4 separate regions of the Homo sapiens genome follow, and regions 1, 2 and 4 are each linked to region 3. Evidence: fine-mapped expression QTL. A gene starts in region 3. Each other region holds a variant in brackets. All regions are shown on one strand. Distances are between the middles of the regions. Region 1 overlaps FAM228B (family with sequence similarity 228 member B). Region 2 overlaps WDCP (WD repeat and coiled coil containing). Region 3 holds the start of TP53I3 (tumor protein p53 inducible protein 3). Region 4 overlaps UBXN2A (UBX domain protein 2A).

Region 1 (5,483 bases), 51 kb before region 3:
AGGCAGGAGAATTGCTTGAAGCCGTGAGGTGGAGGTTTGCAGTGAGCCAAGATCGTGCCATTGCACTCCAGTCTGGGTGACAAGAGTGAAACTCCATCTCGAATAATAATAATAATAACCACATGGGGAAAACACAGAAAAATGGTTCTAATGTAGACAATTAAATCTAATCTTCCTTTTCTCTCCTTTCCAAATGTCCTGGGTTTAAGAATACTTTATGCTATTATGTAACAGGGTATAGATGATACATATGTAGAGGGGACAGGGACAGACTGACTGAATGATTATAAATGAACAAAGATGACATTAGGTCTAAATCAACTGAAAAAAGCATCAAATGATCTCTTAGTACCTTTTTATTTACATGTTTTAAAAAGCCATCTAATTCCCCTTGCCTCCTTTTTTTAATCTTCTTATGTGAGCAAACTTTTTCTATAATTTTCTTCTGAAGAGGATCTGCCACACAGTCAACCCATCTTTTATATAACATCTCCTTTCTTCTTGCATTTAAGAAGGCATGATGTTGTAAATACTTATCTAGTTCCTAGTAAACAGTGGTAGAAAAGACAAATATATTATCCTAAAGCTTTCTTGTTCTAAAATTTTCCAAAACTTAAACTTCATAAGTTTAAATTACTCCTAAGAATAACCCACAGAGACATTCATTAATTCAATCGTTTCTTTGGCTTTAACTTCTACTATGTGACATACACTCTGCTGCAAACAAGGAAAACACAGGTATTTGGGGCAACATGCCTGCTCTCCCTGGGGAGAAAGACTAAAGAACAAATCAAAAGCAAGGCAAGGTGGCGCCTGCCTATATTTCCAGCTACCTGGGAGGGTGAAGCTAGAGAATCACTTGAGCCCAGGACTTCAAGGATGCAGTACACCATGACTGGGACACTGCACTCTAGCCTGGGTAACAGAGTGAAAACCCATCCCTAAGAAACAAACAAACAAAATCACAAACAGTGGGAGGGGGAATATAGCAAGATGTATATTTATATATGATGGATATATGTATGGCATACTATAAATAAAATAACTGAAGACAGAGGAGAGAAAAACCATTTGCTAGATTCTTAAAAGATTCCCAGTTTGGTGGGCCTCAGAAATTTAAACAGACCTACCATAAGACCCAACAATTCCACTCCTACCCAAATGAATGAAAATCCAGGCTCAAATAGATACTTGTACACCAATGTTCATTGCGGCATTATTCACAATAGCCAAAAGGTGGAAACGATCCAAGTATCCATCAAGAGATGAACAGATAAAATGTGGTATATACATACCACATTTATTTATATGTGTAATATGGAATATTATTCAGCCACAAAAAGGAATGAAGTTCTGAAACATGCTACAACATGGATGTACTTTGAAAAGAGTATGCCAAAGTGAAATAAGTCAGACACAAATGGACAAATAGTACAGGATTCCACATATACGAACTATCTGGAATAGCCAAAATTCATAGAGCCAGAAGGTAGATTAGAGGTTACCAAGTGCCTGGGGGAGGGAGAAATGAGGAGTCACTGCTTATTGAATACAAACTGTCAGTTTGGAGTAAGGAAAAAGTTTTGGAAATAGTGGTGATGGTTGCACAACATTATGAATGTGATTAATGACACCGAATGGTACACTTAAAATGGTTAAAATGGCAAATTTTATATTGTGTATATTTACTTTTATATCGCATACACTGAAAAAAATGATTAATTTTTTTTCAAAGCCAAGACTCCCAAAGTGGGAGACATTTGGGCTGGGCCTTTAAGAATGAGGATTTACACTAGGTGCGGTGGCTCACGCCGGTAATCCTAGCATTTCAGGAGGCCAAGGCAGGAGGATCACATGAGCCCAGGAATTCAAGTCTAGCCTGGGGAAAATAGTCAGACTCCGTCTCTACAAAAAAATTAAAACTTGGCCAGGCGTAGTGGCAATCCCACGCCTGTAATCCCAGCACTTTGGGAGGCCGAGGTGGGCAGATCACTTGAAGTAAGGAGTGTGAGACCAGCCTGGCCAATGTGGTGAAACCACGTCTCTACTAAAAATACAAAAGTTAGCCGGGCATGCTGGCACGTGCCTATAATCCCAGCTACTTGGGAGGTTGAGGCAGAATTGCTTGAACCCGGGAGGTGGAAGTTGCAGTGAGCCGAGATCATACCATTGCACTCCAGCCTGGGCAAAGAAGTAAGACTCCGTTTCAAAAAAAAATTAAAACTTAGCTAGGCTCCGTGGCTCACACCTGTAATCCCAACTAATTGGGAGGCTGAGGCAGGAGAATCACTTGAGCCCAGGAGGCCAAGGCTGCAGAGAGCTGTAATTGTGCCACTGCACTCTAGCCTGGGTGACAGAGTGAGACCCTGTCTCAAAAAAAAAAAAAAAAAAAAAAAAAAGAAGGGTTATCCAGGAAGAGAAGGGATGGCAGAAAAAGAGGAAGAAAAACATTCTATGGAAAAAAAAAAAAAAAAAACCCTTCACTATAACTGACCTTCAGAAAAAAAAAAAGGCAAGAGTAAAGAGGCAGAAGTGTGGCATAACCTAATCCAAGTGGCAAGTAGCCTGCAAAGATGATGCTTGATTAGGCTACAAACTAATTCATTCTCACTAAACCTTCTCATTCACCTTTCATATAGCAAATAAAGTCATGTGACTACTAGGAAGAGC[G/A]TGAAATTCAAAATGAAATAAATAAAATATTAAGAACCCTGAGAGGTCTGCTAGGCCGAGTCCCTCCCTAACCTCTGGCCATAGCACACTTCAGCCATTCCCAATGTTAGTTCCTTTCCTTTTTAAAGAGCTCTAAAGAAATTTCTTAAAAATAAAAACAGGTTACCCACTCCAGTGTCCCTGGTGTTTAGTACACTTCACATGGATGTTCTTCTTGTCACATTAAGCCCATCCTGGCTCAGTTAAACCCTGTTCTATGTATATCTGAGTAATAATTAGTCAGTGTGTTCTGCTAACAGCTCTTAAGGGTTAGCTCATTTATAGTGACTGCTGAAACCCACTAAGACAAAGAAACAAGTGAGTAGAGGAAAATTTCTGTGCCTCTCTGCAAAGGAATTCCCACAAAGTATAGGAAGGGAGGAAGTCCATTAGAGCAATTTCAGAGATCCCTTAAGGTTAATTCCAGGTGCAAGGGAGTGTTCTTTTAATTCTTTTTTCCATATTTTCTAAATAGTTTTTATAGAATATGCTACATATAAAAAGGAAAAACTACATTTAATTTTTAACTGAGATGCATTTTGTAGCCAATTCTTACCTTAATTACAGAATTTTCTTTGTATAATATTGATTGAATAGCTGCCTCAGTATCTTCTTTAGCTAAAACCTGAAAGGACAGAATTAAACTTTGAAAAGAAAATCTTTAAAAACTATTAGTGCTATCTGGAATCATTATATTTAGCATGACAGACATATCCCTGGAAAGTTCTCTATGCATGCAGTTTGTTTCCTCCAAATCATATCATCGAGTGCTTTTTTTTGTTTGTTTCTTTGAGACAGAGTCTTGTTCTGTCGCCTAGGCTGCTGGAGTGCACCAGCACCATCTCGGCTCACTACAACCTCCACTTCCAGGGTTCAAGCGATTCTTGTGCCTCAGCCTCCCAAGTAGCTGGGATTACAGGTGTGCAACACATGCCTGACTAATTTTTGTGTTTTTGATAGAGACGGGGTTTTGCCATGTTGGCCTCGCTGGTCTCAAACTCCTGGCCTCAAGTGATCTGCCTGCCTCAGCCTCCCAAAGTGCTGGGATTACAGGCCTGAGCCACTGTGCCCAGCCCATCAAGTGCTTTTTAAACAGTATTTCGATCTGTCTGCTCTTGGCTACACCAAAATATAACTCAGCTCACAGACACTTTGAGTCCCAAAATGTTCAAATGTCTTTTCCAGAGTCACATGGTAGTTACAATCCATCTTTTTTCACTTCCTATAAAATGCTTTTACTTTTCTGGGTTAAAATAGATTAAATTAGGCCTCTATTTGAGGCTTTTTGACTATGCAAGACATACTAATCTTCCAGCCTTGATTCTTACAGAACTAGTTAAGAATATGTCAACAGTTTCACTAAAAGCTTAGTGCCACCTAAGGCAAACTCTATACATAGAAGAAATGTCACTAGTGAACAATAATACAAGGTCTTAGAAAGACTTTCTATTCAATCTCCTGTTCTTTTTCGTGTTCTTCCATAATGAATTCACCCACTAATTTTGTTTTTGAAAATTACTGAAACATAAGCCTATGGATATAATAAATCAAGGAAATGAGTTATATTTTTATCCATTAACTCACAACTGTCTATAAAATGTAAAATTATAATTAAACAAGTAATTAGATCTTCTCAAAATGAAAGCTCTTATTAAAATAAAAGGAAACATATTCATTTAATTTTTCCATGACAATTGACAAATTACCCAAAAGACTGAAACAAATTTCTTAGACAGTATTGACATAAATATAATTGGAACAAATTTATTTATCATTAGTGAATATGGCTATCAAATAAATATTAATAAATTTTATTTTTAATGTACTTATTTTGGAGACAGTCTTGCTCTGTCACTTAGGCTAGAGTGTAGTAGTATGATCATAGCGCACTGTACCCTCAAACTCCTGAGCTCAAGCAATGCTTCTACCTCAGCCTCCCAAAGTGCTAGGATTACAAGCATGAGCCACCATCATGCCCAGTCAAATCCTATTTTTATATACAAGTCACATTTTCAGATTTTGAAATAACACAATCTTTAGGGAACAGTGATATTAGTGACAAAATTATGACAGCATTAATTTTTCCATTTTTATAACAAATGTTCCACAATTATTAAATACCTGCCAGAAAATGGAAGCAGTTGATTTCTAGCACAGAATTGCCTTTGAGATCCTCATGTAATTACATACAAATAAAATATTCTCAAGTTAACTGTCAGTGAAAGTAGTTGTCTTCAGTCCCACTGCTTTTATTTCCAGGACAGATGAGTAAAATCTCATTATCTAAGAACTGTCCTTCCCCATTAACATCCAAAGAAGCCAAGGCTCATGGGAGCTAAGCAACAACTAGAAGCATAGAAAACTCAAATGAGTCTACTCTAGTTTGTTTTCTTTGTTATTTTTGCCTCATAGAGTTGCCCTTCCTGGAAAGTCTGTACTCAGATAGGGGGTAGTGAATTAACATTCCAGATAAAAAATATAAAAAACAACAACCTGAAGACACTGGAGAGTGATCAAAAAGCAGGAAGTTACTGAATGCTATTCAACACCAAGAAAAAAAAACAGCACTAGATGAATTTCCAGTTTTTTATTAACTTGCCTGAGAAAGGGCCTTAGTCTGAGGTAAAGGAGGTGGCTAAAACTCAGATAGAAACATGCGGCCTAACTGGTTCAGGAATTAGAAGACAGAGTTTGGGGTAAGCATGGGAGCTGGAAGGTGAGAGGAAAAATACTGGAAAAGAGGGAGCCAAAGAAAGGATGCCACAAATTCTGCA
Region 2 (5,483 bases), 42 kb after region 3:
TCTGGGTGTTATCCTTAATTCTTTTTTCCTCCTCACTACTTATATCCTATCGATATCACTGTCTATTCCATCTGCCTTAAAAGCATCTCTTGAATATGGCCTTCTTTCTCTACTGAAATAGTTGCAAACTTGCTTCATTTTCACTTTGTGGCATTCAAATTACTTGTCAACTTTCTTCCTTCTCAGGTCCATTCTGCATATTGTTACTTGAATATATGCTGGTTCCCCCAAGATTCCAAATTCCTCAGCATGCCCTTTATGATCAGAGAATAAACTTAGAAAGATATATCAATATCTGATAATATAAGGTTTTAATTGCCTTGTTAAGACATTTTGAGGCTTTTTATATACTGTAGATGTGGGGATTCATCAAGGGTGTTTATGCAGAAGAGCAAAATGATCACCGCTGTGCTTTTTTTTTTTTTTTTTTTTTTTTAAAGATAATTCTGCCCAACAACACATAGTATGCAGGCTCATTTGGAAAGTAGAGACTGGTATCAAGGGGACCTCTCCTTGTTTTACCCTAATAAAAAGGGAGAAGTCAGAACCTGGGCTAACACAGGAGTAGAAAGGAATGGAGCAGATTTTTGTAATTATCACTGCGTTTTTGAGAAAAATGTGCCACATTTCTTCTTGTTACCGAAGATGACAATATTAAAATTCATTCTTCTAAAAACCTCAGTAAACTGGCCCATGCAGTGGCTCACGCCTGTAATCCTAGCACTTTGGGAGGCCAAGGCAGGAGGATCACTTGAGGTCAGGAGTTCAAGACCAGCCTGGCCAACATGGTGAAACCCAGTCTCTACTAAAAATATAAAAATTAGCTGGGCATGGTGGTGGGCCCCTATCCCAGTTCCTTGGGAGGCTGAGGCACAAGAATCACTTGAACCCAGGAAGCAGAGGTTGCAGTGAGCCCAGATCATGCCACTGCACTCCAGCCTGGGTAACGGAGCAAGACTGTGCCCCCACGCCCCCCCCAAAAAAAAACCTCAGTAAACTTATGTTTGTTTTTCTCTTATTCCCAAATCCTTGTCTTGTGCTACCCTGGCCACACACACCCTCATTGACATTAGACAGAATTTGGTATCCTAAAATATATAAATCGACTTGGATGTAATTGGCCCATTAGGAATTTTCTCTGCCCATGAAAGTGTATCATGGCATTATTTATCAATAAAATTCTTTTTAAAGTACATAAGTAGATATTAGGGAGAAAACATTATTATCTTTCATAAGACCAGTGGGACAGAGATCACAGTTTTCTTCATTAGTAATGACTGGACTTTTTTCTCCGTTTAGCAAGCCGCTGCAGAACCACTGAATCTGACATCATATATAAAAGCATAATAGACCCTTTTTTTTTTTAAGTGAAAGATCCTAAGAGCAAGGACAAAGCTAGCAAGGAGATATGCGAAATAATTTACAGATAAGCAAATCACCAGGTTGGTAGAGAATACATTTCATTGGATTTAGAGTCTGAAGACAACTTCTCAAGTTCTGCCTTTGACACTTACTCAGTAAAACAAGGCTGAAAAATGTCATTTAGATTCAGTGACAGGGAAGCACTGGTGGCCTGGTGAGAGATGTTTTGGAGAAGAAATTGGAATGGAATTCATTTTAAGTATATTAAGAAGAGAGTGAGTGGTGAAAAATATGAGTACTGCCAGTTTACACAACTATTTGATAACTAATAAGGTTAAACATCACTTTATATATGTTTGTAGATTGTTGGGGGGTTTTTTGTTTTGTTTTGTTTTGTTTTAAGTAGAGACAGTATCTTGCTGTGTTGTCCAGGCTGATCTCTGGTCTCGAACTCCAGGGCTCAAGTGATCCTTCTGCCTTGGCCTCCTAAATTGTTGGGATTACAGGCATGAGCCACTGTGCCTGGCCAACAGTCATTTTGTTTAGTTTTGTTTTTGAGACCGAGTCTCACTCTGTTGTCCAGGCTACAGTGCAGTGGTGCCATCTTGGCTTACCGTAACATCTGCCTCCCAGGTTCAAGCAATTCTCGTGTCTCAGCCTCCCAAGTAGCTGGGATTACAGGAGTGTGCCATCACTCCTGGCTAATTTTTTTGTATTTTTAGTAGAGACGAGGTTTCGCCATGTTGGCCAGGCTGATCTCGAAATCCTGACCTCAGGTGATCCACCCGCCTTGGCCTGCCAAAGTGCTCGGATTAAAGGCATGAGCCACCTGGCCCAGTAATTTTTTTTTTTTTTTTTGAGACGGAGTTTCACTCTTTTTGCCCAGGCTGGAGTGTAATGGCATGATCTCAGCTCACTGCAACCTCCGCCTCCTGGGTTCAAGTGATTCTCCTGCCTCAGCCTCCTGAGTAGCTGGAATTACAGGCATGTGCCACCACGCCCAGCTAATTTTGTATTTTTAGTAGAGACGGGGTTTCTCCATGTTGGTCAGGCTGGTCTCGAACTCCTGATGGTCAGGTGATCTGCCCGCCTCGGCCTCCCAAAATGCTAGGATTACAGGCGTGAGCCGCCGCGCCTGGCTCTGGCCCAGTAATTGTTTTTATACTAAATTTTTTTTTTTTTGAGACAGAGTTTCACTCTTGTTGCCCAGGCTGGAGTGCCATGGCACGATCTCGGCTCACTGCAACCTCCACCTCCCGGGTTCAAGCGATTCTCCTGCCTCAGCCTCCTGAGTAGCTGGGATTACAGGCATGCGCCACCACAGCCAGCTAATTTTTTTTTTTTTTTTTTTTTTTTGAGACGGAGTATTGCTCTGTCACCCAGGCTGGAGTGCAGTGGTGCGATCTCGATTCACTGCAACCTCTGCCTCCAGGGTTCACGCCATTCTCCTGCCTCAGCCTTCCGAGTAGCTGGGACTACAGGCGCCCGCCAACACACCTGGCTAATTTTTGTATTTTTAGTAGAGACAGGGTTTCACCGTGTTAGCCAGGATGGTCTCGATCTCCTGACCTCGTGATCCGCCTGCCTCGGCCTCCCAAAGTGCTGGGATTACAGGCGTGAGCCACTGCGCCCGGCCAATTTTTTGTATTTTTAGTAGAGATGGGGTTTCTCCACGTTGGTCAGGCTGGTTTTGAGCTCCTGACCTCACGTGATCTGCCCTTCTCGGGCTCCCAAAGTGCTGGGATTACAGGCGTGAGCTGCCACACCCAG[G/C]CTTTATACTAAAATTAGTCTTTCTCAGTCTGTGTTTATTATTGCAACATTTTATTCTTATATCCATTATTATATATTTATGTATCCACTGATTGATAGTATTTCAAAATATAATTTTCCTGAGGCAGTTTTTCATTTTACATTAAATAGTATTTTTTATGTTTATATTTCAAAGTGAGTATTCAGGTATTACAGCTTATCCAAATAATGTCCTTATTCTCCCTACTGACTATATGTATCTTTTTTTTTTTTTTTTTTTTTTTGAGACAGAGTTTCACTTTTGTTGCCCAGGCTGGAGTGCAGTGGCGCCATCTGAGCTCACTGCAACCTCCGCCTCCCCTCCCAGGTTCAAGCAATTGTCCAGCCTCAGCCTCCCGAGTAGCTGGGATTACAGGCACCTGCCACCGAGCCCAGCTAATTTTTGTATTTTGAGTAGAGATGGGGTTTCACCATGTTGGCCAGGCTGGTCTCGAACTCCTGACCTCAGGTAATCTGCCTGCCTGGGCCTCCCAAAGTGCTGGGATTACACTTTGGGTGTAATGGGTGTAAGTGCTGGGTGGCTCATGCCTATGAGCCACCATGCCTGGCTACCCCATTTTTTGTTTAAAAGAAAAGCCATAACATGTAAAATCCTATATATCTTTGTGTCTTTCTTTAACATTTTCAGAGGCTAAACACCAAATTGTTAATGATGCTTTTATCAAGGCTTTGAAATGTTGGAAAGGAGGAGGAGCTAAAGGGGCTGGCACTGAGTAGGAGGGAACAGTTTTTTTTTTTTTTTGGAGATAGAGTTTTGCTCCTGTCGCCCAGGCTGAAGTGCAATGGTGCAATTTTGGCTCACTGTAATCTCTACCTCCTGGGTTCAAGTGATTCTCCTGCCTCAGCCTCCTGAGTAGCTGGGATTACAGGCATGCGCCACCATGCCCGGCTAATTTTTGTATTATTATTAGAAACAGGGTTACACCATGTTGGCCAGGCTGGTCTCAAACTCCTGACCTCAGGTGATCCACCCGCCTCAGCCTCCCAAAGTGCTGGGATTACAAGCATGAGCCACCGTGCCCAGCCTAAGCATGTACTTGTTTTTTGTTGTTGTTGTTTCTTTTTTGAGGTGGAGTTTCGCTGTTGTTACCCAGGCTGGAGTGCAATGGCACGATCTCAGCTCACTGTAGCCTCTGCCTCCCCAGTTCAAACGATTCTCCTGCCTCAGCCTTCTAAGTAGCTGGGAGTATAGGCATGCACCACCACACTTGGCTAATTTTGTATTTTTAGTAGAGATGGGGTTTCTGCATGTTGGTCAGGCTGGGATCGAACTCCCAACCTCAGGTGATCCTCCCGTCTCAGCCTCCCAAAGTACTGGGATTATAGGCGTGAGTCACCACGCCCAGCCCTAAGCATATGCTTCTTTAGTGATTCAAATGCCTGGGGGAAAAATATTCAGGGTGAAAAAATGAAGATAATACTTGCCTAACCTACTTTACATTATTTTAAAAGATTATTGTAAGATAAAATGCAATAGGGAATGTGAAAATGTTCTGAAAATTATTAAGTGCTGTTGAATAAGATGAAGTAGAAGTAGAAATAGAAACAGTGATTTTTGAGTGTCATTTCAATAGAGGGATAAAAGCCACTTTGGAAGGATTTGAAATAAGTGCTAATAAAGTCAGAGATGTGCATATCAGTTATTCATTGATTTGGCAGTGAAAGGACGAATAGAAATTAGATGATGGAGGAGACTTTTCTTAAATTTTTAATTGGAAAATTTTCTAACTTAAAAGTTGAAAGTACCATAAATACTAACATAGCCTCAATCTAGACTCTACAATTATTAACATTTTGCTACATTTGTTTTCTTTCTGTGTGTCTATAGAAAATTTGGGTTTTTTTTGTCAAACCATTTGAAAGCACATTGTAGGCATCATGACATTTTACCCCAAGTGCTTCAACATGCTTATTTAAATAATAAGGACCTTGTCCTGCATAACCACAATACCATGTTCACACTTAAGAAAATTAATAACTCTGGCCGGGCGCGGGAGCTCATGCCTATAATCCCAGCACTTTGGGAGGCTGAGGTGGGTGGATTGCCTGAGGTCAGGAGTTTGAGACCAGCCTGGCCAACATAGTGAAACCCCGTCTCTACTAAAAATAAAAAAAAAATTAGCTGGGCCTGGTGGCAGGCACCTGTAATCCCAGCTACTCTGGAGGCTGAGGCAGAAGAATCGCTTGAACCCAGGAGGCAGAGGTTGAAGTGCGCCGAGATTGTGCCATTGCACTTCAGCCTGAGCAACAAGAGTGAGACTCCGTCTCAAAAAAAAAAAGAAGAAAAATAATAACTCTACAATATTTTCTGA
Region 3 (5,466 bases):
GACCAGCTCATCCTGAAGCTATCTAGGGCCCCCACCCTAAGTCATATTAGCATAAACTCGAGTGTGCTTATAAGGGTTTGTTATTAATATAAAAAGTCACTTCTATCACATACGAAATTCCAAGGGTTTTAGGAGCTCTGCAGGAGAACAAAATATAATAAAAGATACTTATTGGCCAGGCAGAGTGGCTCATGCCTATAATTCCAGTACTTTACAGGCTGAGGTGGGAGAATTGCTTGAGTCCAGGAGTTCATGATCAGCCTGGGCAACGTAGCAAGACCGTATATCTAGTTAAAAACAAAAGAAAGAAAGAGATGTTTATTCAGCAAATAACAAAGGTTTTAGGAGTGCTATTGTAGGAACCCAGGACAAAGACCAAAAATATATATTTCTTATTACACACTGCAAGATTACATCGACCAAGGGCTCACTAAGATAAAATCTTAGGCACTTTCAACTACTAGTTTTACTGGGATACTTTAGTATACTTAGTGGTTGGTATTATTAGATTTTTTTTAAAGTTACTCCTTGCATCTTAAAAGTTCTTATTTAGCACTTACATTACACATTCCTCATCTATCTTAATCCATTCCATTTTCTTAATCCAATCAGTTTTAGTGTCGATTTTTGCAAAGTTTGTTATTTACAACTATTTCCTTTCCATCTGTCTCTGTTCTAGGATATTTATTTGGTTCAAACCTTTCCTCGATTTTGGACAGATGTGTATCCGGATGATGTGTCTCTGAATCCTTATACATCCTCAGACATGTTTTTTGCCCTAACAAGTGAATTATATCTTAATGGGGTATATTGAGTTACAGTGCTTTTCTTCTAGTCAATAGACGCTAGTCTACTCTCTTCTAGCTTCCAGATTGCAGATAGAAACTTGCTGGGCACAGTGGCTCATACTTGTAATCCTAGCACTTTGGGAGGCTGAGGCAGGAGGATTGCTTGAGTCCAGGAGTTTGAGACCAGCCTGGGCAACATAATGAGACCCCTACACTACAAAAAAGAGAGAGAGAGAAAGAGGGGGTGGGGAAGGAGGGAAGGAAGGAAGGAGGGAGGGAGGGAGAGAAGGAAGCCATTTTTTTTAACCAATTGTGAGTAACTTATTCTTTCCACACTTGTTAGAACCTGAAATTTTATAAAATATAGGCATGCATTTTTGTTCTTATGAATCCATCCTTTAGTGAATGTTTTCAATCCGTATAATCTGGTAGAATTTAGGAAAACTGTATTCTTTTATTTGGTTAACTATTGAATCTTCTTCATCCATTCCTCTTCCTCCTTCTAAAATTCCTTTTTTTTTTTTTTTTTTGAGACGGAGTCTCACTCTGTCGTCCAGGCTGGAGTGCAGTGGTGCGATCTCGGCTCACTGCAAGCTCCCCCTCCCGGGTTCACGCCATTCTCCTGCCTCAGCCTCCCGAATAGCTGGGACTACAGGCGCCCGCCACCACGCCCGGCTAATTTTTTGTATTTTTAGTAGAGACGGGGTTTCACCGTGTTAGCCAGGATGGTCTCGATCTCCTGACCTCGTGATCCGCCCGCCTTGGCCTCCCAAAGTTCTGGGATTACAGGCGTGAGCCACCGCGCCCGGCCTAAAATTCCTGTTATTCTCATAGCAGGGTCTCCTGAATTTTTCCTTAAGTCCCATCATTTTATTATTTCCATCTCTATAGGCTTTTGCTCTGTTGTGTTAAAGAAATAATTATTCAATGATACTTGTTAAAGCACATTAAGGAAGACTTTATTTAGCACCATCGCTACAGGTTTAGGGACCACTGCAATGAGTTCTTGCAGTGGAGGAGACAGGTTGGGATCAACTCTGAATGCATCACGGACAAGTGGGAATGTATAGCCAAGGAGCAGTGTAGGGGGTCAGTGGATGGAAAATTGGTAAGAGGCATCAGGGGTAAGGGGGATTCTATCTAAACTGACCTAACAGGATTCTCACTGAAGACAGGCCAGGGTGGTCGGATATCACTTGGGGGATGGTGGAGGATGAGATATTGAGGGTGATCAGATGTCAAGGATGGGAGGTTCTTACTAAAACAGGAATTTACAAGGAGTGCTACGGATATGTAGTGGGGGGAGGCCAGGGATGCTGCTAAACATCCTACGATGCACAGGACGATCTCCTACAATAACGAACTAGCTAGTCCAAAATGTCAATAGCGCCGAGATTGAGAAACCTTCATGTAGCTTACGGATACAGCTTTTACCCAATCGCCAGCATCCTTCTCCTGGGGCTGAACCTCTCCCCCAGGACTGTCAGGAGGAGGCGAGTGATAAGGATCCCAGGACTGCGTTTTGCCTTCCTTCCCCACCCCCACTCCCAACGGCTCCTTTCTCTTCTCTTAGCAGCACCCAGCTTGCCCACCCATGCTCAAGATGGGCGGGATGCCAGCCTGTTACATAAATGTGCCAAAAGCCTGGCCATGCCTGGAAAATGGACCAATCCGCCCGCCAAGAGGTTGGGTCTCGTTCCCTAGAGAGAAGGAAGTTTCCTCTCCTTGAAGTGAGAGCTAGAATCGCACTTTCTGTCAAGCTGAGAGAAAGACTCTTTTCCAGAGGCTAAAAGGACAAGAAAATCTGATTTGCTTGCTTCTAACTTTGCGTTTTAAAGGGGGAAGGAGGAAAGGAAAGAGGGGGAGGGTGGTTCTGCTTAGCCCCACCCCTCCGGCTACCCCAGGTCCAGCCGTCCATTCCGGTGGAGGCAGAGGCAGTCCTGGGGCTCTGGGGCTCGGGCTTTGTCACCGGGACCCGCAGGAGCCAGAACCACTCGGCGCCGCCTGGTGCATGGGAGGGGAGCCGGGCCAGGAGTAAGTAACTCATACGGGCGCCGGGGACCCGGGTCGGGCTGGGGGCTTCCAACTCAGAGGGAGTGTGATTTGCCTGATCCTCTTCGGCGTTGTCCTGCTCTGCCGCATCCAGCCCTGTACCGCCATCCCACTTCCCGCCGTTCCCATCTGTGTTCCGGGTGGGATCGGTCTGGAGGCGGCCGAGGACTTCCCAGGCAGGAGCTCGGGGCGGAGGCCGGGTCCGCGGCAGACCAGGGCAGCGAGGCGCTGGCCGGCAGGGGGCGCTGCGGTGCCAGCCTGAGGCTGGGCTGCTCCGCGAGGATACAGCGGCCCCTGCCCTGTCCTGTCCTGCCCTGCCCTGTCCTGTCCTGCCCTGCCCTGCCCTGTCCTGTCCTGCCCTGCCCTGCCCTGTGTCCTCAGACAATATGTTAGCCGTGCACTTTGACAAGCCGGGAGGACCGGAAAACCTCTACGTGAAGGAGGTGGCCAAGCCGAGCCCGGGGGAGGGTGAAGTCCTCCTGAAGGTGGCGGCCAGCGCCCTGAACCGGGCGGACTTAATGCAGGTACCCAGGGCTCAGCCGCGCCGGGGCGGGCGGGACTCCAGAGCCTCCCTCTCAACAGCACTCAGTGGACATTGACCAGACGTGAAGGCGTGCACCGCTCCACACCCAGCAGGCAGCTGCGCTGGGGCTTCCCAGACCTAAACCCAGGGCGCCCTCTTTGTTCATGCAAAACAAGGGGGAGTACTTGTAAAGCAGAATCCACCCCGAGCTAATCCATAGCCACTCAGGCCTCCAGATGAGGGCGGAACTAACATTGTTGTGGGGTGTGGGCACACTTACTCCCCAGGCTACCCTGTTCGCCATCTTAATTCTACAGATAAGGAAACTGAAGTTCAGTGAGGTTAAGCAGTACGCCCAAGGCCGTGACACTAGCAATCAGAAGAGCTGGGATTCAAGCTGAGGTCTTTGTGGCTCCAAAGACCTCTTAACTCTTTCCACTCTGAGAGTCCCGGAGCTGACAGCGGGCAGTACTCTTAAGAATTTTCTTCTGTCTGATGCTGATTTACTGACCTGGGCCAGCTGCATTGGTTGGGGTCATTCAGAAATGTGCATCAGAATCCCCCGGGGCACAAAAGAAACGTGATGGGGGCCCAGGCACGTGTACTTTGAAATACTCCTCAGGTGGTTCTGCCACACACTCCTGGTTAAGTCCCTCTGCTCTACAGCTTCTGAGGACTGGGGTGAGTGAGCACAGAGCCTAGCGCTTGATGCATGGGAACCATCGTCAAGGTTCCTAATCCCACTACTATTATTTCCCGTCTGGGACTCAGTTTCTCCATCTGTAAAGCAAGGGGTTCAGATGAGGTAAATAGCTAAGGACTCTACCAGTTATAACATCCACTGATCATGTGACCTCCAGTTTATTTGCATAAAACTAATGGCCTCTCCTTTTTCTTCTCCTTACTTACAAAAACCTGACTTCATTCTGAAATTTATTTTTGAAAAAAAAAAGAGGGGATCTTGGAAGGGGGGCCAGGGGTAGTGACATACAGATTTCTGATCATGCTCACCACTTAGTGCACTTCTTTCTCTGCAGAGACAAGGCCAGTATGACCCACCTCCAGGAGCCAGCAACATTTTGGGACTTGAGGCATCTGGACATGTGGCAGAGCTGGGGCCTGGCTGCCAGGGACACTGGAAGATCGGGGACACAGCCATGGCTCTGCTCCCCGGTGGGGGCCAGGCTCAGTACGTCACTGTCCCCGAAGGGCTCCTCATGCCTATCCCAGAGGGATTGACCCTGACCCAGGCTGCAGCCATCCCAGAGGCCTGGCTCACCGCCTTCCAGCTGTTACATCTTGTGGGTGAGGAGGCCTCCATGCTCACTCCACACAATGTGGCTCAACACCTTCATAAATCAGCCAACTTGAATCCCAGCAATCCCCCAGGGCACTCCCAGGCCTTCCTGTATCACCTGTATTGTCAGGTCCTCAAACCATGTTAGAAGGGTTTAATGTTGAGGCTGAGAATCATGGTTAGCAGATAGAGGGTCTGGATAACACTAGATAGGAGGCCTATGTACATGTTAACACCGGACGCCCAGCAGAAGTCCCAGCTTCTTAGAATCATACTGAGCTTCTCTCTGGGGTCCCAGTGCAACAGAAGGGACCAATTGACTCATTTATTCCTCCTCAATCCCACAGAGGCCAGTCAAGAACTCACATAAGGGAATCTAAGAAGACTTGGTCCTTGCCTTTAGACAGTGCAGTGTAACTGAGAAGGCAACATATGCATAAGATCAGATGACCATAGAGTTTAGAAGGATAGCCCTGTCTATGATAGAAGCTGGAGATGAGTAAAGATGGTGTGGACAAGGGTAGTCAGAAGGCTTTTTGGAAGGCTTTGAAGGGTGGGTAGACTTGTGAAGGACATAAGGCATGCCAAGGTGGCCTAAGAAAGAGTATCAGCCAGGCAAGGTGGCTCACACCTATAATCGTAGCACTTTGGAAGACAGATCACGAGCCCAGGAGTTCAAGATCAGCCTGGGCAACATGGCGAAACCCTGTTTCTACAAAAAATACAAAAATTAACCAGGCATGATGGTGCATGCCTGTTGTCTCAGTTACTCAGGAGGCTGAGTTGGGAGGATCACCTGAGCCCAG
Region 4 (5,483 bases), 130 kb after region 3:
ATCTCAGCACTTTGGGATGTCAAAGTGGGAGGACTGTTTGAGGCCAGAAGTGCCAAACCAGGCTGGGCAACATAGCCAGACCCCATCTCTACAAAAAATACAAAAATTTGGCTGTGTGTGGTAGCTCACACCTGTAATACCAACACTTTGGGAGGCCAAGGCAGGTAGATCACAAGGTCAGGAGTTCAAGACTAGCCTGGCCAACATGGTGAAACCCGTCTCTACTAAAGACACAAAAAATTAGCCAGGCGTGGTAGCACGCACCTGTAATCCCAGCTACTCAGGAGGCTGAGGCAGAAGAACTGCTTGAACCCGGGAGGTGGAGATTGTGGTGAGCTGACATCGCGCCATTGCACTCCAGCCTGGGCGACAGGGAAAGACTCTGTCTCAAAAAAATAAATAAATAAAAATAAAAAATAAATTAGCCCGGCACGGTGGCATATGCCTGTAGTCCCAGCTACTCCGGAGGCTGAGATGGGATGATCGCTTGAGCCCAGGAAGTTGAGGCTGCAGCGACCTGTGATCATTCTACTACATTCCAGCTTGGGCAACAGAGGGAGACCGTCTTAAAAAACAAAACCCAGCAGCCGGGTGTGATGGCTCACGCCTGTAATCCCAGCACTTTGGGCGGCCAAGGCAGGTGGATCACCTGAGGTCAGGAGTTTGAGACCAGCCTGGCCAACATGGTCAAACCCCATCTCTACTAAAAATACAAAAATTAGGCGGGTGTGATGGCGAGCGCTTGTAGTCCCAGCTACTTGAGAGGCTGAAGCAGGAGAATTGCTTGAACACAGGAGGCAGAAGTTGCAGTGAGCCGAGATCATACCACTGCACTCCAGCCTGGGTGACAGAGTGAGACTCTGTCTCAAAAAAAAAAAAAAAAAGGAAAAAAACTTCAGGAAATCATAACTCTATGCCCATTAACGTTTTCTCATAAGATTTCTTCCTTCAAACGTAGTATTCCTAAAATTAATTGCTTCACTTTAAAAATGTCTACATATTTCAAACATACACAAAGGAAAGAGAAAAATATAAACACCCACCCTGACCATTCAGATCAGCTTGACTCATTTGTTTCTTTTTTAAGAAATAAAATGGTACAGTGACTCATGCCTGTAATCCCAGCTCTCTGGGAGGCCCAGGCAGGGGGATCACTTCAGGCCAGGAGTTCGAGACCAGCTTGGTCAACATGGTGAAACCCCGTCTCTACTAAAAACACAAAAATTAGCTGGGCATGGTGGCAGGTGCCTGTAATCCCAAGTACTCCAGAGGCTGAGGCAGGAGAATCGCTTGAACCTTGGAGGCAGAGGTTCTGGTGAGCCAAGCTCGCACCACTGCACTTCAGCCTGGGTGACAAGAGCAAAACTGTCTCAAAATGAAACAAAACTATATATATATATATATATATATATATATATATATATATATATATATATATCCATCTTACTGTATATCAATTATAATGATGGAAAGTTGTTAAAAATAACTAAAGTGTATACTTATTCAGCACCTACTATATATCAGACATGAATGATTCTAGGTGCTTGGGATACATATTGAACAAAATAGATAAAGATCCCAGCTCTTTTGGACATTATAATCTGGTGGGGCTGTTTGTTTTTCACTTGGCAGTTCTCCAACATTATTTTCAACTAATTCAAAATAATCTCCTACAGTTAATAATACTGTATGCTTCAAAATAGCAGAAGGAATGGGTTTTAAATGTTCTCACAACAAAGAAATGTTAAGTATTTGAGCTGAGGGGCATGGTAATTAGCCTGATTTGACCATTCCATAATGTACATAAGTACTGAAACACCACAATGTATCCCATAAATATATAAAATTATTGTCAACTAAAAAATAATGAATAGGCCAGGCATGGTGGCTCATGCCTGTAATCCTAGCACTTTGGGAGGCCAATGTGGGTGGATCACCTGAGGTCAGGAGTTCGAGACCAGCCTGGCCAACACGGCGAACCACGCATGGGTGTGGTGGCGCATACCTGTAATCCCAACTACTCGGGAGTCTGAGGCAGGAGAATCGCTTGAACCCGGCGGGTGGAGGTTGCAGTGAGCCAAGATCGTGCCACTTCACTCCAGCCTGGGCGTAAGAGCAAAACTTCATCTCAAAAAATAAAATAAAATAGGCCAGGCGCAGAGGCTCATGCCTGTAATCCGAGCACACTGGAAGACCGAGGTGGGCGGATCACTTGAGGTCAGGAGTTCGAGACCAACCCAGCCAACATGGTGAAACCCCATCTCTACTAAAAATACAAAAAATTAGCCAGGCATGGTGGAGGGCGCCTGTAATCCCAGCTACCAAGAGGCTGAGGTGGGAGAATTGCTGGAACCCAGGAGTCGGAGGTCGCAGTGAGCCAAGATCATGCCACTGCACTCCAGCGTGGACAACAGAGCGAGAATCCGTCTCAAAAACAGTAATAATAATAATAAAATAAAAATAAAATAAAATATTTCCATAGTTTAGATCTGGTCTTCATTATCTCAAAAGCATAACATGTTCATTCTACTACTTTGTTCACATTGTAATCATCGTCCTAGGCATTCAAATCCTAACTATCCTTTAAGTCCCAGCTCAAGATCCATTTCCACCATAAAGATGAAATATTAGACCCTTAGTAATAGTCTCCTCCTAAGCATTTAGATTTTTGGCATTTAAATCATATTGTGTGATATTGCTTATTACTGTTTCTTTTCACTCTCTTTACCAGATCTGACATCGCTGAGGATAAGTACCATGACTTACACATTTCCTGTATCCTTCACAGTGTGCAGCAAGTGCAAAGCAAAGAGTAGCGATCCTTGGGGTGGGGGTGGGGGTGGGGGTGGGGGGATGATGAGAAATTATTCCAGTGATGGATACATTAAAAGCTCTGACTTTACTACTGTACAATATATCCATGTAACAAAATTATACTTGTACCCCACACATTTATACAAATA[A/T]TTTTTTTTTTTTTGAGACAGAGTCTTGCTCTGTTGCCCAGGCTAGAGTGCAGTGGTGAGGTCTCAGCTTACTGCAACCTCCGCCTCCTAGGTTGAAGTGATTCTTCTGCCTCAGCCTCCCAAGTAGCTGGGATTACTGGCATGTGCCACCATGCCTGGCTAATTTTTGTATTTTTAGTAGAGACAGCGTTTCACCACATTGGCCAGGCTGGTCTCAAACTACTGACCTCAGGTGATCCTCCTGCCTTGGCCTCCCAAAGTGCTAGAATTATAGGCATGGGCAACCACGCCCGGCTATAAATAAACTTATTTTTATTTTTATTATTTATTTATTTATTTTTGAGATGAAGTCTTGCTCTGTTGCCCAGGCTGGAGTGCAACCTCTACCTCCTGGGTTCAAGTGATTCTGCTGCCTCAGCCTCCCGAGTAGCTGGGGACTACAGGCATGTGCCACCACGCCCGGCTAATGTTTTGTATTTTTAGTAGAGACAGGGTTTCGATGTGTTAGCCAGGATGGTCTCCATCTCCTGACCTCATGATCCGCCCACCTCGGCCTCCCACAGTGCTGGGATTACAAGCGTGAGCCACCATGCCTGGCAAATAAATTTCTTCTAAAAGCTACAAGAGGGTTGGGTGTGGTGGCTCATGCCTGTAATCCCGGCACTTTGGGAGGCCAAGGCAGGCGGATCACCTGAGGTTAGGAGTTCAAGACCAGCCTGGCCAACATGGTGAAACTCCGTCTCTACTAAAAATACAAAAAAAAAAAAAAAAAGAAAAAAAAATAGCCAGGCTTGGTAGCACACGCCTGTAGTCCCAGCTACTTGGGAGGCTGAGGCAGGAGAATCACTTGAACCAGGGAGATGGAGGTTGCAGTGAGGGGAGATCACGCCAATGTGCTCTAGTCTGGGTGACAGAGATTCTGTCTCAAAAAAAAAAAAAAAAAGCTACAAGAGAAGTCTTACTTAAAGGATTTCACTGAGTTTCCAGTAATAGGTTATTGTTCTCTAGGAAATTACAAATACTTTTTTCCATCATTTTACAGTTATAAGGTACTGACAAATTGCTTTTACTTGTTTTATGACAGCAAAAGAGAATGAAGATAGAATAGACCTCAAATTCAAACTGAGTTTTACTGGAATACTGGCTACATCACTTTTGAGCTAGGTGACCTTGTATATGTTATTTAGCTTCTCTGAGTCCCAGCTGCCTAACTTATAGCATGGACATAATTATCCCCCTCAGGTTGTTCTGAGGACTGAAGATACTAAGAATACAACAGTGTTATACTCCTTTTTCTTTCCTCATCCCCCACCATAATCTGTTATAGAGATTGGTAAGAAACATCTTCAAGCTCACGCCTGTAATCCCAGCACTTTGGGAGGCCGAGGTGGGCAGATCGCCTGAGATCAGGAGTTTGAGACCAGCCTGGCTAACATGGTGAAACCCTGTCTCTACTAAAAACACAAAAATTAGCCAGGCATGGTGGCGCATGCCTGTAATCCCAGCTACTTGGGAGGCTGAGGCAGGAGAATCACTTGAATTGGGAGGTGGAGGTTGCAGTGAGCCGAGATCACGCCACTGCACTCTAGCCTGGGCAACAAGAGTGAGACTCTGTCTCAAAAAAAAAAAAAAAAGAAAAAGAAAAAGAAACATCTTCAGACTTAATCTAAAAAGTCCTAATTTTGACATGATTATGAAATTTTACTTTTGATTTCACGAATTAAACTTTTTAAAAGCCCGGCACAGTTGCTCACGCCTGTAATCCCAGCACTCTGGGAGGCTGAGGCGGGCGGATCACCTCAGGCCAGGAGTTCTAGACCAGCCTGGCCAACATGATGAAACCCTGTCTCTATTAAAAACACAAAAATTAGCCGTGCATGGTGGTGGGCACCTGTAATCTCAGCTACTTGGGAGGCTGAGGCAGGAGAATCACTTGAAGCTGGGAGGAGGAGGTTGCAGGGAGCTGAGCCCCCGCCATTGCACTCCAGCCTGGGCAACAAGAGCAAAACTCCATCTCAAAAAAACAAAAACTTAAAAAAAAATGTTTTATATACTTATTGAACCACCCACCAATGTGTGCAAGCCACTGATTTAAAACTAATGACAAAAGTGTCAGTATCAGTATGACAGTTTCTAGTAGCACAATTTTATGGACTAATAAGGAAAAAACAAACTGAATTACTAATTGTAAGCATGGCATAGAATTATGATGTAAAAATTAATTTTAACATGGAGACACCACAAAGTCACCATTACCGCAGTCATTTTCTATCATAAATTTAGTAACATGCAAATGAACCAACTAAAATTTATTTATATCAATTGAGTGAGCTGCTACAAATGTATCACAGTCATATGACATGAATGAACCTAAGTCATGTACTATACTGCAGAGAATAAAAAAAGCCATCTGACAAATATCCAAGTTATCAGCATAAAGTTGGCACAAGAATGAACAGATGAAAAGAACTGCCTTCATTTTTCTTCGGTCTACTTCCAACTATCACCATCATCTTACAT

What was found. PIP is the estimated chance that this variant, and not a neighbour inherited with it, causes the effect. A credible set is the group of variants that fine-mapping cannot tell apart.
Region 1: its variant is the best candidate, but not a certain one, in a credible set for the expression of TP53I3 in whole blood (INTERVAL, PIP 0.52).
Region 2: its variant is the best candidate, but not a certain one, in a credible set for the expression of TP53I3 in blood mononuclear cells (TOPMed, PIP 0.59).
Region 4: its variant is the best candidate, but not a certain one, in a credible set for the expression of TP53I3 in whole blood (INTERVAL, PIP 0.86).

The regions. Positions count from the first base shown.
Region 1 is chr2:24,132,970-24,138,452 of GRCh38, reverse strand. FAM228B (family with sequence similarity 228 member B) reads right to left here. Exons shown (of 11, transcript NM_001145710.2): 3 at 3,266-3,334; 4 at 353-544. Among named protein-coding and RNA genes, the nearest start is that of FAM228B, 12 kb to the right of the region's middle. The variant G/A (reference allele first, on the strand shown) is at 2,671.
Region 2 is chr2:24,039,771-24,045,253 of GRCh38, reverse strand. All of the region lies in intron 1 of WDCP (WD repeat and coiled coil containing), which reads left to right. It also overlaps a transcript of FKBP1B not described here. Among named protein-coding and RNA genes, the nearest start is that of WDCP, 4.9 kb to the left of the region's middle. The variant G/C (reference allele first, on the strand shown) is at 3,133.
Region 3 is chr2:24,082,087-24,087,552 of GRCh38, reverse strand. It overlaps TP53I3 (tumor protein p53 inducible protein 3), which reads left to right and starts at 2,719. Exons shown (of 5, transcript NM_004881.5): 1 at 2,719-3,364; 2 at 4,401-4,668. The coding sequence starts at 3,227. It also overlaps a transcript of FAM228B not described here. RefSeq lists enhancers at 1,934-2,434, 3,182-3,231, 3,382-3,481, 4,077-5,007 and a silencer at 2,992-3,171.
Region 4 is chr2:23,947,369-23,952,851 of GRCh38, reverse strand. The region is part of intron 1 of UBXN2A (UBX domain protein 2A); the gene reads right to left. Among named protein-coding and RNA genes, the nearest start is that of UBXN2A, 9.6 kb to the right of the region's middle. The variant A/T (reference allele first, on the strand shown) is at 2,964.